2 separate regions of the Homo sapiens genome follow, and region 2 is linked to region 1. Evidence: fine-mapped expression QTL. Tissue or cell type: whole blood. Region 1 holds a variant in brackets; the other region holds the start of a gene. All regions are shown on one strand. Distances are between the middles of the regions.

Region 1 (8,208 bases):
GGCTTTTTTCATTTGGGGTAGAAAGATTTTCCAAAGATACTGCACCTACATGTCAATGGTCAGTCCTACGGCACATGGCTGCCTTTAATAGCTACAAAGGTATCTGGGATGGTGACTATTATAGTTCCCCAGCCTCTATTACATAATAAAAGGTAAAAGGGGGTTTTAAATGAAATTGGGGTAGCCAAAACAGAATGTCTGCCACGTATATTAATTCTGTGTATATTGTCTAATCCTAGAAAAGCACATTAGACCTAGTGAACACTCAAGGGAATGAATAAAATGTTATTAAAGTTCTATAAAATTCTACCTACATCAATAAATCTTTCTTGACCATTATAAAAGAAAAGAGATATGGACTACAGCTAAGACTCTAGAGTGAATTTCTGTTTCTGCCCATTAGTATGGTATTAGAACATCCATTCTGCCAGTTTCTTTGCCTTTTCCTAATCTGTTTTATCATCGAGCCTGTCCCAGAACCATCCACAATTTACAAATCTCCTCTTTGATACATTGCCCCAACTCCTTCAAGATGATTTTCATGTAGATCTCTTTTTCCAAATCCTCTCTGGCCCCCAGTCTCCATGCACCAATCCACTGTATTCCATAACCACAGAAGAGCTTTCAACTTTCCCCCCAAATTGTTAAACAAGTGAATGAAACATATCAAGAAAAAAAAACACACATCTTAAAAAGATGTTCCCAAATGTTTCATTAACACATGCAACTATCTTAGTTCATCACTCTTCTAAGAAGTTTTGTAGACAAAAACACAAATATAGCAGGTGCTGCAATACATGCTGAAGCAGCAGCAAAAAAAAAAAGACAAGCTCATTTATTTCAACAACAGGAGATAAACATCAATACACCCTCTTTTCAATCCTTTAATATATCTGGAATTCATGCTACTATATGGTACAGGCTGAAGATTTACATTTACTTTTAGATAAACTGTTAATTATTTCAGGATAGTTAATTCAGGAATCATTCTTTCCCCACTGATATGAAATGCTACCTCTACCATATACTGAATTCACAGGTAAGCTTCTGGGCTCTTCAGTATTATGTTTGTTTTTACATTAGGACCACACTATCACAATTATTAATAATACATTTATATGATATATTATAATTTAATATTTATTCTCAACAACATAGTATACAAGACAGACTTTAGAATCATTGCAGCAAGTGCCAAAAAGAAAAAAGAAAAAGAAACCTTTAGGAATTTGACTCATATAATATTATATTATTTATCAATTAATTTGGAAGACATTGGCATCTTATAATATTGTATTCCTTCCGATCTTGAATATTTACTCAATACTTCTGTCAAATACAACTAATAACTGATACAAAGGGGTATAATACATATCCTATTTGCTTAATTTTCCTTGAAATTTCACATGAAAAATATATATAAAATCACTTGGAAAAGAATAAACTGTGGTATGGTGTTACAGTTATGTAGGAGTAAAAGAAAAGCTTCCGTTGACCACAGTATTCACATATCATCAGTAACAATTCACCCACAGAATTCATGTACTTGAACTGGCAGTTTCACACGTCCCTATTGGTCATAATAAAGTCAGTCCTTTAAATAATCACTCAAATTTACTGGAAACAAATAACATCCTAAAACCATACCACATCGTAACATACTATTTCCTTTAATTTTTAATTAATAAATCCTGACATGATTATTTTGATAACCTGGAAAATTTACCAGCCATATCAAATCAAAATTACTATAAATGATATAACTTCACCTGTGAAAAAAATGTAATTTCTCAACCTGAATAAATTTACGAGACTCTGAAGTGATTTCCAATCATATTGTTTGACATACTTAGGTTTTAACTGAGTTTTTTTTAAAAAATGGGAGTGAGGCCCAAGTTAGAAATATTGTTCCTTATAATTTTTTAAAGTGCTTCCTACTTTCCTAAAATTTCCAATAGTCATTTTTGCATGCTATAAAAGAATGTGCAGGCTAAACCTACTTAGCTTTGTGTTATCTATCACTCAGGGAGAGTATGATGCTCCTAAATGTCAAACAGAGTGAAGGAAATAAAAAGATTTAAGTGACAGAAAAATTATAACTCATAAGAAGATATATCTAAGTTTTGGTGGGGTGTTTAGTGACTAGTAAGAGGAGCCCCTTGTAGAAGAATTTCAGTAACGCAAGCATACTAGGTAAGAAAGAATCAGATTTCCGCACTATGGAAAACAATGTTTCCTCTTTTAGTCAAATGAACAATGTATCAAGCATCACATCAACAGACTTTTAAAATGAAATAATTATGACTATGCTCATCTCTGATCTCAGGAAAAAAATTAGTCTAGATACATATAAAATATAAATTTCATATACATTTAAAATGATACTCTAAATAGCTGACATTTCTCTTAAACAATAATTTTAAAGACATATTTATGCAATAAATTTAGCATCTCACCTGTCCAGCAACAGCACTGAAGTAAGTATACACGGAGTCACCAGCTGAGGAATAAGTGTCTGAATATGCTGGCCCAGAGTATCCATCGAGGAGTATAGCTGGGCCTGTTTCTGGCACTGGCTGTCCCATCTGCATTCCTGGCACCTGAATGCTAAAATTTCCAAACTATAATAGTGAAAGGGGAGAAGGTTAGTAATATAAATACTACCTATTATCTATGAAAGTTGGATTAAAAGAAATTATTAGAAGTCCGTCAAAAAGTAAACAGTTACCAAAAGCTTATAATCTTATCACAAAAATTTTAACTACAAAATGTTAGATGTCCTACATTAAGACATAATTCAATTCATCAACATATATTACCCAGCATTAAAAGAAGTATAAAAGAAAAAAGAAAGTTACTAGCCTCTAAGAACTTAATCTAAGAGGAACATGTACAATTTTAAAAAATGTTTACCAACATCACTGAAGTAAACAAAAAGTAAAACAATGCAAGATTTTACCTAAAGTAAAACTAAGAAGTAAACCTCAAGACACATACTTAGAAGAATATATGTGTAAATACAATGAAACTTTAAGTGTCAACATTTACAATATGTTGGGTATTGTATTCTTTACAACTATTTAAACTTAAAATAAAAACTTTATATGTCAATATAAAATATGGGAAAAGGGTATATAGTTTTTCAAAAATCTTTTAAGGGGCGGGAAGCAAAATGTTTAAAGAAACTGCTGTGGTTCTGGTAGTATCCTGAGGGATGACATAGAGTTCTGTATGCTGGCCTCCCACTTGTTTCTTTTCAGCCTATTGTGACTTATTACAGTTTATATATGTGGGATTCTCTGATGTTACAGATTATGTGATCTAGTTTTAACTAAAGCCATAACAAAATGGCAATAGTAAAGATTCAAAAACATGCAAAGCAACATGAAAGGCTTGGACATGAAAATATTGTCTAAGCCTTTCCTTACCCACATTATGTAGTAATAATAATAATGATCAATTTTGACTCATTTGAAACTGTCAAGAGGACAACTTGAAATATAAATTTATGTAAACCGTGTTTAGGGATGAACCTTGTTGGCCAGGGGCCCCAGTTCTCCTCCACATGGGCCCTTTCACATGGCTCTTCCACTTTTTCATAGCTTGGCAGTCAGCTTCTAAGAGAGAGAAAGAGAAGCTGCCAGTCCTCTTAAAATATTGAGTCTGGAACTGCCATGGTGTCTTTTCTACTGTATTCTACCAGATGAAGGTGAAACAGGCCCAATCCAGATTGAAGAAAGTGGAGAAATAGTCTGTGCCTTTCGATAAGGGGAGTGGTAAAGAATTGGTAACCATCATTAATCTGACCACCAGGTTCTCAAATTATGGGACTGGGGAAAGCTAATGCTGCAAATTGGGAAGGGAAAACAGATTAAAAGTTATTCCTAAGGACAGATTCTTCATCTTTGAATTGATTTTGTATGCTATTTCTTGTGTGAAAATCTAATCTGTTTAAGTTTTCTGTGCTTAAAATGTTTTTTTATTATTGAAAACACTGAAGCTTGTATAATACAACATGTACAAACAAAAACATGTAACGAAGTTTTAGATTGTTTCATTTCCTGTGACCAAAGTGAGAAACAAAGAAAAAAGTCCTTTACATTGAGTTATAATTTTTATTCGTATACAATTAGTAAAAAAAAGAAAATAATACAATTTTTATAAACAATTCTTAAAAGAAGAAAGTAAAAATCTATTGGAAATGCATCTCCTACAGAGATAAATCATGCACTTAATTAGATAAAAGTATACTATCAAAACAATTAGGTCTAGCAGCTGACATTTTATATTTTGTTAAAAGAATATAAGAAACATTAATAAGGCATGGGTTTCCTTTAACAGGATTTATAAACGTCTCAACTATCTTATTAATATTCTCCTACTAAAGAAATCATGTAAGTTTTATCCCAAAATTTTATCCAATGTATCTTAAAATATTTCAATTACATTTTTTAAAATCAGTGCCTCTAATCTATATATTGCTTCAGCTATTGAGGGTACTTCTCTTTCCGGCGATTAATAATGAGCATGACAACAGCTGAAAAGAGTTGTTTATTTTAAATTCATGGAAAAGGGGATTTAAATATTCAAAACACATACAGACGTTCTCTTTATTGTGTCGTGGAACTCTCCATCAAATTCAAGCACTCTGACAAAAGTGGGTAAGGAAGCACCAAATTATTTGAATGAAAATGTATTACTCTTGCCACCTCACTCTACCATACATATATGAATTCAGAGCATACCAAGAGGAGTAAATATACAAACTTCTAACAGATAGCTTCAACCAAATGAAAATACGTATACGCTAGGGACGTTTTTAAAGACCCACAGGTTTATGCTATCTTGATTAATCTTCGAAGGGGCTTTACTTTCCTTAGGTACCTTAAACTTCCTTCCTAAATTTAAGGACTGAGGAGGCATAGGCATTACAAAGTGGACGGTGCCAGAGGGGATTGAGGCAAGTCTTAAGGAAAGCAAATCAATTTTAGGAACAAGTATGTGTGGAAGTTGAGGACCTGGAAATTCATATCCTAAAACAACAACAACAACCACAACCACAACCAC[C/AACCACCACCACCACC]ACCACCACCACCACCACCACCACCACCACCACCACCATGAACTCCAAGGGGTAGGAGTAACTCTTTTGAAGACCACAACCATAGCCCAAAGTCAAGTCCTATATTAAAATCAGTAAAACACAATTTCTCTTTTTAGGTAAAAAACAAATAGAAAATATATTATATTCTACCCACACCGCAATGGATCAAACTACTGTTAACTCTGTTAACACAGCGTGTAGATCACTGACATCGATACTAAAGGTTTGGGCTCCTTTCTGAAAAGAAGGGGCTAGCCACCAGGACTCTACGATTATAACTTGCAACTCCCAAAGGTGATGCAGGATAAAAGTTATAACAAAGAGTAACTTCCCCCCGCCTGGGGGCGAGCGGGGGAGTCTAGAACAGATTGCCCTTCGTATAACAGTAAAGATTAGGAGTTATTTACCGTACACCTTAATTTATTCATAAGGAACTTAAAGAACAAGAAGTGGTCAGGAAATTCAAAAAGAGGATCTCTAGCAACACTGAGTGGGGGGCGGGGGAGGGAAGTACCACAAACGATTACTGGAACAAGAAGAGGGTGGCTTGTTCCTCCATTCCAGGAAATAAATTTCCAAACACACATTACTCCCTCGGCTCCACCAGGACGCTCCTCGAGGGTCCTCAACGACCAGAAAACCTGCGGCTCCAAGTCAGCCCAGGATCAATGCTCGCCCAGGCCCTGGCCCCCAACAGCCCCGGAATCCGGCGCCGCCGAGTACCAGGCGCGGACGCAGGGAGCAGGAGCCAAGGGCGGACCCGCACGTTGGCACCGCCCCCGGGGGCGCCACACCCCGCGAGGAAGAGGGACACGACCAAGCGGCTGGGACTCACCCCTCCTCCGTATCCCGGGTAGGCCATGACGAGCGGGACGAGCGGAGCGAGCGTCACCCTCGAGTCGCGTCCGCAGTGCTGGGAGAAAAAGCACAGGCGCAGGTGCAAGGAGGCGCAGCTGCAGGTGAGGCTGAAAGGCGCACTAACCGCACAGTTCACTCCTCCGAACCCGCCCCCTTCCGCAGGCCAGCCCCGCCCTGCACGGTTCCGATTGGCTGAGTCCCACACTTTGGAGCCAACTCAGCTGCAGTCCGCCCCTTCCCGCAGCCTAGCCCCACCCATCTCTGCCCTGATTGGCTACACCCCATCGGGAGCCCTCCAGTCCCTGCTCGACTCTTACTGGCTCCCTCAGGTTCTCGCGCGCTCTCCTTCTAAATCCCGAAGAAGCCTTGGCTGCTGCAACGGAATTCCCACTCTCTGTGGAAAGGTCTTCTACAAGCCTTCAACTCCTCAAGTTACTTTTCTTTCTAGAAACCCCAAACCGGCAAGTCTGTGACTTATTTTAACCAGCCCTCCACGCTTTTGAGCTGGACTTCAAAGACCCATCTGTGAATTTCAAAATTTTGCAGTTACATTTACTTTTGTGTAGTGTTGATGTCACATCAAAACTTTGCAACCAGGACCACACCTGTGGTCCAGGAGGAGTGCTTCTGCGCCAAAACCCACTTGAGGCCACATTGGACGAACAGGTTATTGATTCTGTTTGGTAGATAAATGGTGACCTGAATTGTGGCATGTTGGCAAATAAACAGGATATCTAGTTAAAGTTGATTTCCAAATAAACTTTTTTAGTGTAAGTATGTCCCAAATATTGCACAGGACGTGAACATACACTAAAAACTTATTTGCTGTTTATACACTGATAATATAGACGGTGTCCTGTATATAATCTGACTCAGCCTTTGGGCAAACTCTTGTTAAATGTTCAATTACTTTGGCTTATTAAGTAATAGCAATGGACAAGTCTGATTTATCTCTGGAACTCAAATGAATTTTGTAGCTCTGACTTTAAAAGGACAAGGCAGCTGTAGCTTTGGCTTATGAACAAATGAAAAAACCAAATGATATTATTTTGAGTTATCTCTGAAGAACAAGAGAAGGGCTAACATGTTTCTTAAAAATAAGGCTATCAAAAAAATGTTAACTATTCACAAAGGAAATCAGCCTTGCAGAGCTGAGTATCTGTTGTTCAGCTATGCTACAGAAGAGGATGTTGGACCTTGTGAAACAATTCTCAGAGGAAACAGCAGAGAGAAAGGAAGATTGCCGATGTCCTAGCTACTCTTGGGAAAGTGTCTGTAAGTTCCTTCAATGCTGTAAGAAATACTTAAGCCACTAAGGTTAAATTATTGGCATAAATAAATAGAGGGGAAGGGTAAAACCTACGTGGCAAAAGGGAAAAATGCATGGCTTATGAAGGTATCAAATGATAAAGCGCTAGAAAGAACAAACCATTGCAAAATTTTATTCCAACGGATTAACTACATATTCAAAGAACTGCTTAGGAAGGATTGAGTGTTTACATTTACAATGTTAGTCTGATTCTGTGGTCAAAATTTTTGTGCATCTTGTTTTCATCAAAATAGCCTTATTGATGCAGCTGCATTTGTGCAGTTGGGAGTTAAGGCCCCATGGGTTTCTTGCCTTTCTGCACATTTAATTGCAAAGATAGTATTTCCTGCCAGGGCAAAGTTTGGGTACGTTTGCTAGCAGCCTTCTTAGGACTTTCCTAAGCTTGGAGTTCTTCCAGTTGCATAACAAACACAGTGCATGTACAACACCCATCTGGCAGCTCCTCTTCGCCTTGTGGGACTTCAGAACGAGGGGAATCTATGGAAGTATGAAGCTCATGGTGCCTGTTGTGCTTTGAGTAATAAAGTTATTTGTCTCAGACTCAGGAATCTCACACATTCTGCCAACTTCCATGAAACTGTGGCACTCTACTTGTTTGCTTATAACTAGGGTAAAATATCAGATCCTTCATAGTTCCTGCCAATATATCTCTTAACTTAGAGAAAGGGCTACCAAAGAAAGTTCCTACCATGAAGATGCAGAGGAGGACTTTGAACAACACAGCATCTCTCTCTCTAAAACTAGTGTTTCAAATTTTAAATATTCTAGTATAAAAATTCAAATAAGGCCATAGAGTTTTTTTTAAATAACAGTAATGTTAATTTGCCTCCATGAGTCAAGTTAATACTGTATGAACAATAGCATTTTATGAAAATGTCATGTCTATTTAAAAAATTTGCTTTTTAAATATTTTTCTTTTAATAAAATCCTTC
Region 2 (8,180 bases), 28 kb after region 1:
AAAAAGCTACGACAGTATCCTTTTAATAAACTTTCCTGCTAAATCAGCCTATCAGTTTCAGTTAAATGGCTGAAAGTCTTGCTTAAAGTCTCAGTTAAATGGCTAGCTATTATATAGTGTTTATATGTATGTGTGTATATATATATATATATATATATATATATATATATATATATATATATATATGTAACTAAATTTTTCCTTTATAAATTGTGCATTCTTTGAAGACTAGCACCGCACCATCTCTTCTTTAATTTTTATATAAGCGTAGTGGGCTGGAGTCACATATTGGGCACATAAACATGCCAGGCTGGTGCTAGTGTGTTACAGTCTATCCTTAGAACAAACTTCTGACATGATACCAGAATCTTTCCATTTTACAACTGATGTATTTGAGGTGATTTTTCAAAGCACAGCAATTAAGAAATAGTATTGAGATGTGAACTCAGACAGCCTGAACTCAGAGTCTCTGTGCTTAACCATACCCCACACTGCCAGGTTAAGAGCATCTAACACTTTAAATTACACAAAGCAGGCTCATTATTGATACAAATGAGCAAACAAGTAAAGGAACAGAACAACAATTCCAGGGTTTCTCACTAAACTAAAATTATTGTCATTTTCTTTGAAAAAGACATTATTGCTATGCATGGTCGTTAAATTGTAGTGGCAGCTCATATTGTTACTACTTCTTAAAAACTCAAATGAAAAGTTGCATAACAATGGGAAAATACATAGTTCAGCAGGATCTCCTGCCTCAAAAGAGAAAGGAAAAAGAAACTTACATTTGGGAACTGGTGAAAAGGATTAAAATGAAACCTAGTAGAAGAAACTTGACAGAGGAAAACAATTAATTACTCAAGTGAAAAACAGAAAATAAACTAAATCATGATGCAAAAAATATAGATGAAAAAAGGATACATTGTGAGAGATTGTGTCTTGGCTTTTGTTTCCTTAACCTCCTTTCTCCAAAAAGGGTCCCATCAAGACTATGGGAGATTCCTAAAAAAGAAGTCCCTTCCACCCACACCTAATCCTCATCACTCAGACCTCATCCAGCAGAGAGACTCCTACTTGTGAGAAAATATGAATTGTTATTGTTGGGTATTATGTGATGCTAATAGGGTTAGAGGAGGATGACTATTTGGGAAATCAACCTGTGAAACTGTAATATACATTATTATGTAGATTTACTATGGTCTTCAGGGCATTTATCCTCACCTGCACATTGCATATTTTTTAGTCATTACTTACCATCTATCTTCCCACTCCCATTAGAATGTGAACTCCATAAAAGTAGGAGCTTTGTTAATTTTATTAACTGCACCTAGATCAGTGCTGGTCATGTAATAGATACTTAATAAACATATTTTAAATGACTAGATGATACAATGAATGATATAATTTGAATGCCAAATATTTAAATATCTTTGGTTTAAATGTTTATTATTTGAGAACAGGTCAAATACCAAACATTTGATCCTTTCTCTTCCAGAGCAACAATTAAGTGGTATGAAGAAAATAACATTAACTGGTTCCCCATATTCAGTCAGCAACCCCTTCTCATTCCCCCATGTTTGAAACCAAGAAACAGAAGGATAAGTGCCAGGAAAAAGAATGTTTTTTGGTTTGTTAGTTTGTGCTTTAACATGTTGAATAAAACCCACTGGCAGCTGGGGGATAGGAGTATGTTTTTGCAACAGCCTTAAAAGATATTTTCATAGACCCAATACTTAAAATTAATAATTTGAGTGCTTTTGTAGAAACATCTAATTGGATTATCCTCTATCTGGGTACAAGGTCATCTCCCAAAATTAAGTGAAAAAGGAGTAGGGTTCTGTGAAGAAACAGAAAAGAACAGTATAAATCAGGCCTACCTGCAAGCCCAAGGTTTCATTTACTTCAACTTTCAGTGTATTTAACATTATGCCAGCTGCTATGGTCAACTCAAATACAACTCCCAGGAGAGATGTCATCAAGAGCCCACCAGTTGTGAGTAGTGTACTAGTTACTATGTAAATATATCCCTTCTTCAAGCAGCTTACAATCCTTCAGGGGTAGAAAAAGCCTTGCTACATAAGATAATTAGAGAATAAAATAAGACATGTTACCATAAAGTGCTCATTTGGATATTTTGTATGCCCCTAGTAAACACTCACCAAGACTCTGTACTTCTATTATCCTGTTCAAAGCACTATCAGGTTTTCCTGGCCTACACAGACTTTATTGAATGTACTTTGCTAACAGATTATTTTTCCTAAATATGTCTCTTTGATAACCTAAATGATCTCTCCATCCTTTATATAATTCTGGACCATGAGATTCTAGTTATGGTGCGTATGTGCCTACCACCCACAGTCACATGTGGCTACAGAATGCCTTCAGAATGAGTAGTAACCTTAAGGACTCACATTTATGTGGCTTCTGTACCAAAATGAAGCTGCCATTTTTCAGTGTGAATATGTTTTTTTTCTCTCATGACATAGACAAATGTTGATGTTTACTACAAGTTGGTACATTAGTTGCTAATTAAGTTCCTAGCTGCTCCAGCCAAAACTTGCTGTATTGAATCCAAGAAAAGAATGGCAGCTATATCAAAAATAAGTTGTTGGGGGATTTTTTTGTTTTGTTTTATTAAAGGAAAGTTGTATATTAAAGAATATAGGGAACTTACAAGCTGGGATCTAGGAAACTTTAAGTCTTGGCTTCCTTCTAAGCTGAGTTGGTGGTTCAAGTCCATCCACATCTGTTACCAGGTCCTGGTCAAAGCTGCATAAATACCAGCAATCTAAATATGAGGCAGTAAAGTTAACTGTTTATTGTTACTCACTTTTTCGAACCCACCTCCAAATTCCCAGGGAAACAAGTTAGTGTTTGGGAACCCACAGGAGGTCAGGTTTATTTTAGGAAGGACTTCCTCCTGTCTTCTCCACATCTCTGCAAAGATGTCTTCTGAGCTTCATCTCTCACCTGTCCCTCGCAGTCTCACCACCCTCAGCCAGGCCTGCCTACATTCACCAGCCGAGGGTAACTCCCTGTTCACGTCCGGGTCTGTGGCAGTTTCTGTTCACTTCCCCTTTGGAAAGTCCCAAATCACATGCTTTTATGCCCTGCACATTTTGGCCTACAAAGGACCTTATTGTTAAGGCAGAACCTGCTGGGAAAACAAAATATCCGCCGGAGGAGCTTTGCTAGAGCGTTGGTCTTGGTGTCAGAGAGAATTCGCTTTCCTTTTCTGTTTCCCGCGGTGTCCTTAACCAAAGGCCTCCTCTCTTCACCCGCCCCGACCAAAAGGTGGCGTCTCCCTGAGGAAACTCCCTCCCCGCCAGGCAGATTACGTTTACAAAGTCCTGAGAAGAGAATCGAAACAGAAACCAAAGTCAGGCAAACTCTGTAAGAACTGCCTGACAGAAAGCTGGACTCAAAGCTCCTACCCGAGTGTGCAGCAGGATCGCCCCGGTCCGGGACCCCAGGCGCACACCGCAGAGTCCAAAGTGCCGCGCCTGCCGGCCGCACCTGCCTGCCGCGGCCCCGCGCGCCGCCCCGCTGCCCACCTGCCCGCCTGCCCACCTGCCCAGGTGCGAGTGCAGCCCCGCGCGCCGGCCTGAGAGCCCTGTGGACAACCTCGTCATTGTCAGGCACAGAGCGGTAGACCCTGCTTCTCTAAGTGGGCAGCGGACAGCGGCACGCACATTTCACCTGTCCCGCAGACAACAGCACCATCTGCTTGGGAGAACCCTCTCCCTTCTCTGAGAAAGAAAGATGTCGAATGGGTATTCCACAGACGAGAATTTCCGCTATCTCATCTCGTGCTTCAGGGCCAGGGTGAAAATGTACATCCAGGTGGAGCCTGTGCTGGACTACCTGACCTTTCTGCCTGCAGAGGTGAAGGAGCAGATTCAGAGGACAGTCGCCACCTCCGGGAACATGCAGGCAGTTGAACTGCTGCTGAGCACCTTGGAGAAGGGAGTCTGGCACCTTGGTTGGACTCGGGAATTCGTGGAGGCCCTCCGGAGAACCGGCAGCCCTCTGGCCGCCCGCTACATGAACCCTGAGCTCACGGACTTGCCCTCTCCATCGTTTGAGAACGCTCATGATGAATATCTCCAACTGCTGAACCTCCTTCAGCCCACTCTGGTGGACAAGCTTCTAGTTAGAGACGTCTTGGATAAGTGCATGGAGGAGGAACTGTTGACAATTGAAGACAGAAACCGGGTAGGTGTCTGTTCAGATGGAGCTAGCCTTTTAGGCAGATTTTGCAAAGCAGGCTTCCTTGTGCGTTTGCCCCTTTCCAAATGTGCTTGACCTCTTTGGGCAAATCTAGTTTCTTCCTTTGAGAAGACAACATCTAGGCACTTTAAGACAATTTTAAAAATTTAAACACAAAAGAACTACTTTTCTAATGTTTTCACTGAAGTAAAAAGGAGTTAACTCTAGAATCGTAATGTGTATTAACAGGTAACTTTTATTGAACACTTACTATGTGCAGTTGGTATCATTTTCAAAATGTATTACTACAGTTCATGTTCAGAGTAACCCACTGAGGCTCCTAATGTTATTAACTCCATTTTACAGATGAGAAACCTGAGGCAGGTTAAATAATTTGTCCAAGGTCTCCCAGGAAAAACAGTGGCAGAGCTAAGAATTTAGCTTGTGATAGTGTTGAATGTTTTTCTTATTTAATGTAGTTCCATGGAGCAGGGGTTAGTAAACTACGGCCCATGGGCTAAATCAAGCCTGCTACTGTTTTTTTCAGGCCCACAGGCTAAGAATGGTCTTCAGATTTTTCAATTTTTAATTTTCAGTGTTCATAAAGTTTTATTGGAACACAGTCATGCTCGTTTGTTTACATATTGCTTGTGGCTGCTTTTCTACTCCAAAGGCAATTGGATGGAGACTGTGTGCCCTTAAAGCCAAAAATATTTATTATCTGGCATTTTAGAGAAAAAGTTTTCCAATCTTTGCCCTACATTACACTTTGTGCCATTTAGTCTTAGCCCAAATGGGTAAATTGCAATCACACACACACACACACACACACACACACACACACCCTTTTTCTTTAATCAAAGTTTCAACATTCTTTGAGAATCAAAATTTAGAAACAATTCATTGAAAGAATGTGTTGCTAGTTTCAGTTTTTCATGTTAGTGAAGAAACTCATTTTTCTTAAGGTAGCATTTTGACAGGGCGAATTTTACTGATGACTTTACATTGAATGTGATATGAATTATTTTTTGATAAGTGAAGATGTACTGTGATGTGTATAAATGCTGACCTGTTTGAATGTGACTTATTCAGGCTCGTAAGTCAAAAGTCTTGTTTTGGAAGACATGTAGACAAATAAAGCCATGACTAAAAGTCAAAGGCTTTGTCTACACCACTCTATGATTTTCACATGGTTTTTTTCTCTCTCTCTCTTTTGGGTCATCCATTGTTTGTATATTCATACAAACTTCTGGGCATTTGATTGATTTGCTATAGCCTATGATGCAATTTAGTCTTTAGTGAATAAAGTTAGTGATCTTTTGTAGACTTGACAGACACAGGGCCTGTCCAAAGACCCAAACATGCATCTAATTTTGATGGCCAGTTTTCCCAACAAGTAAATTACTTTGCACTGTTGTCTGTAATGTTTATGTCGTTTTGTGTATTGAGAACCAGCTAGAACGCATTATAGTAGTCCAGCTGGATATGACAAATGTGTACATCACTGTGGCAGAATCTTAATTTGGAAGAAAGTATGCAGCCTTCAAGCCAGCTGGAGATGGAAGATGGCATTTCCAGCCACAGTAGCTGTTAGAAGTCCAGAAGCAACAGAGTCCAGTAACACCACAAAGCTGTTTATGTTTGGTGGGTATGATGTCCCGATTGCCAGCGAAACAGCACTTCTCCCTATTTACTCTAAATACTTCTGCCTATCAGCATCACTTTTGTCTTGCCTGGATTGAATTTCCGCCAGCTAGATTTTATCCAAGTTCTTGATTCTGGCAAGCTTGGAGGCAGCTAGCAGTAATGCAAGGGATTTGACACAAAGAAGATATAGAGTAACGGGACTTTTGTGTACTGGTAGCAGTTAAGGCCAAAACAACCCAAATTCTCCCTCTGATTCACATTTCAAAGGAGGCCCCAAAAGACTGAGCAGCTATAAATTTGAGGCTCTCTAGGAAGCAATAGTTTCTCTGTGAGAGTGTGGAATAATTTTTGTGTGCATCATTTACATGTATTATCAGTTCCAAAACTAAGATATGGTGGACAATGAGACGGAAGCATTAAGTTTGGTAGAATAATCTATATTGAGGTGGTGGTCATTGACAAATGTTTATCTTACAGCAGCAAAGTGTGATAAGACTGTAGAAGGGGAACACATGGATTTGAGGTCCATCTTGGCTTCTTACTATATGCGTTACTTTGGGCCAAATTACTGAAGTTCCCTGATGCTACATTTACCTGTGAAAATGGACATCATAAAATTTCTCACAGTATTTTAGTCAACATCAAATCAGAAATAGTGTTTATGAAAAAGCTTATAAATCAGAGCTATTTGATATGATAATGGTGTTGACTTTTGTAACCATTCATCTGGTTACATTTCTGTGTAAATTTAAGTTTGAGAGATTGAGGTAAATTCCCCATGTCGCAATTGAGATATACTTCTTAAAGTCCCTAGATTATACTGATTTGAAAAAGAAATTACCTCTTTCATCCCAGAACCTAACTAGGATTAGGTAGAGGGTTGGTGTTTAGTAAGCATTGATTACTTGATTGATAGACTAATTGAATTTATTTCTGAAAGTGTCTGGAATAAGCGTTGAAAACACATGACGTATTGAATTGTGTTGCCAGGCGTTAGAGAATGGATGAATGATGAAAATAAGATTTCCAAATTTGCTTTTTTGAAGGCTTAAAATAGCATTTAACTAAGTAATCAAGACTTCTATAAAATGGTCTTGTATTTTCATTCTTTTTCTGTTTCCCCATAGACATTTTCTACTTGATCTATTATTTTAATTTAGGATTCCCACCCCATTTCCTAGCCCCTGCCCGTAATTACAGCAGGCCTTCTGAAAATGACTTTATACATAGGTTTGTGTCCAGCAAGTACCCAAAAACTTATTCATTCATTCACTCATTCATTCAGTTTGAATTTATTGAGTGGCATCTTTGTGCCGGATGCCATGCTAGTGGTGAAAAGATAGGAGAAAAACACAGAGACTGTTTTGTCCTTTCGTGAAGTTGTGTTGTAGTGTTAATTAGTGTTGATAAAAGAATGTCTACTGTAGGCCAGTCATGGTGGCTTACGCCTGTAATCCCAGCACTTTGGGAGGCCGAGGAGGGTGGCTCTCGAGGTCAGGAGATGGAGACCATCCTGGCTAACACGGTAAAACTCCGTCTCTACTAAAAATACAAAAAAATTAGCTGGGTGTGGTGGTGGGAGCCTGTAGTCCCAGTTACTCGGGAGGCTGAGGCAGGAGAATGGCATGAACCTGGGAGGCGGAGCTTGCAGTGAGCTGAGATGGCGCCACTGCACTCCACCCTGGTGACAGAGCGAGACTCCATCTAATAAGAAAGAGAGAAAGAAAAAGAAAGAAAGAAAGAAAGAAAGAAAGAAAGAAAGAAAGAAAGAAAGAAAGAAAGAAAGAAAGAAAGAAAAGAAAGAAAGAAAGAAAGGAGGGAGGGAGGGAGGGAGGGAGGGAGGGAAGGAAGGAAGAAAGGAAGGAAGGAAAGAAGAATGTCTACTGTATACAAGGGACTATTCTAAATACTAGAGTTTCAGCAATAAATATATGCCATTTTATCAATCATTATAATAAAGCAATCCTTAATGGTAAGGGGGTACCCCTGTACTGCCTTGCTCCTCTTTTAGGATGCTAAGTTACAATTTGGCATTGTTACATCTTAGTTATAACTAAGTTACAACTTGGCACACCCATCAATTTAGGCAGTCATGAACTCTGGGAACGAAAGTGATCATATAAACATTTCCATAGTGTCTTAATAATCAAGCTGAACAGCTAAAGAGAGATGCATGTTTCATCCCTGGCCAGTTCAGAACACAATGCATCTGTAGTCCTGGAGACTCCACACACCTTCCATTTACACAGAAGAACCAGAGATGCCATGACTAGTCCACCTAAGAACAGTCCAGTTCTCCCAACATGAAGTTGAGCACCCAAGTC

What was found. PIP is the estimated chance that this variant, and not a neighbour inherited with it, causes the effect.
Region 2: it holds the start of IFIH1, and the variant in region 1 is fine-mapped to the expression of IFIH1 in whole blood (INTERVAL, PIP above 0.99).

The regions. Positions count from the first base shown.
Region 1 is chr2:162,341,991-162,350,198 of GRCh38, reverse strand. It overlaps GCA (grancalcin), which reads right to left and starts at 6,067. Exons shown (of 8, transcript NM_012198.5): 1 at 5,924-6,067; 2 at 2,457-2,621. The coding sequence starts at 5,950. RefSeq lists silencers at 5,761-5,840, 6,081-6,230 and enhancers at 6,259-6,428, 6,281-6,510. The variant C/AACCACCACCACCACC (reference allele first, on the strand shown) is at 5,068.
Region 2 is chr2:162,313,890-162,322,069 of GRCh38, reverse strand. It overlaps IFIH1 (interferon induced with helicase C domain 1), which reads left to right and starts at 3,386. Exons shown (of 16, transcript NM_022168.4): 1 at 3,386-4,215. The coding sequence starts at 3,763. It also overlaps a transcript of GCA not described here. RefSeq lists enhancers at 2,154-3,353, 2,922-3,471 and a silencer at 3,502-3,591.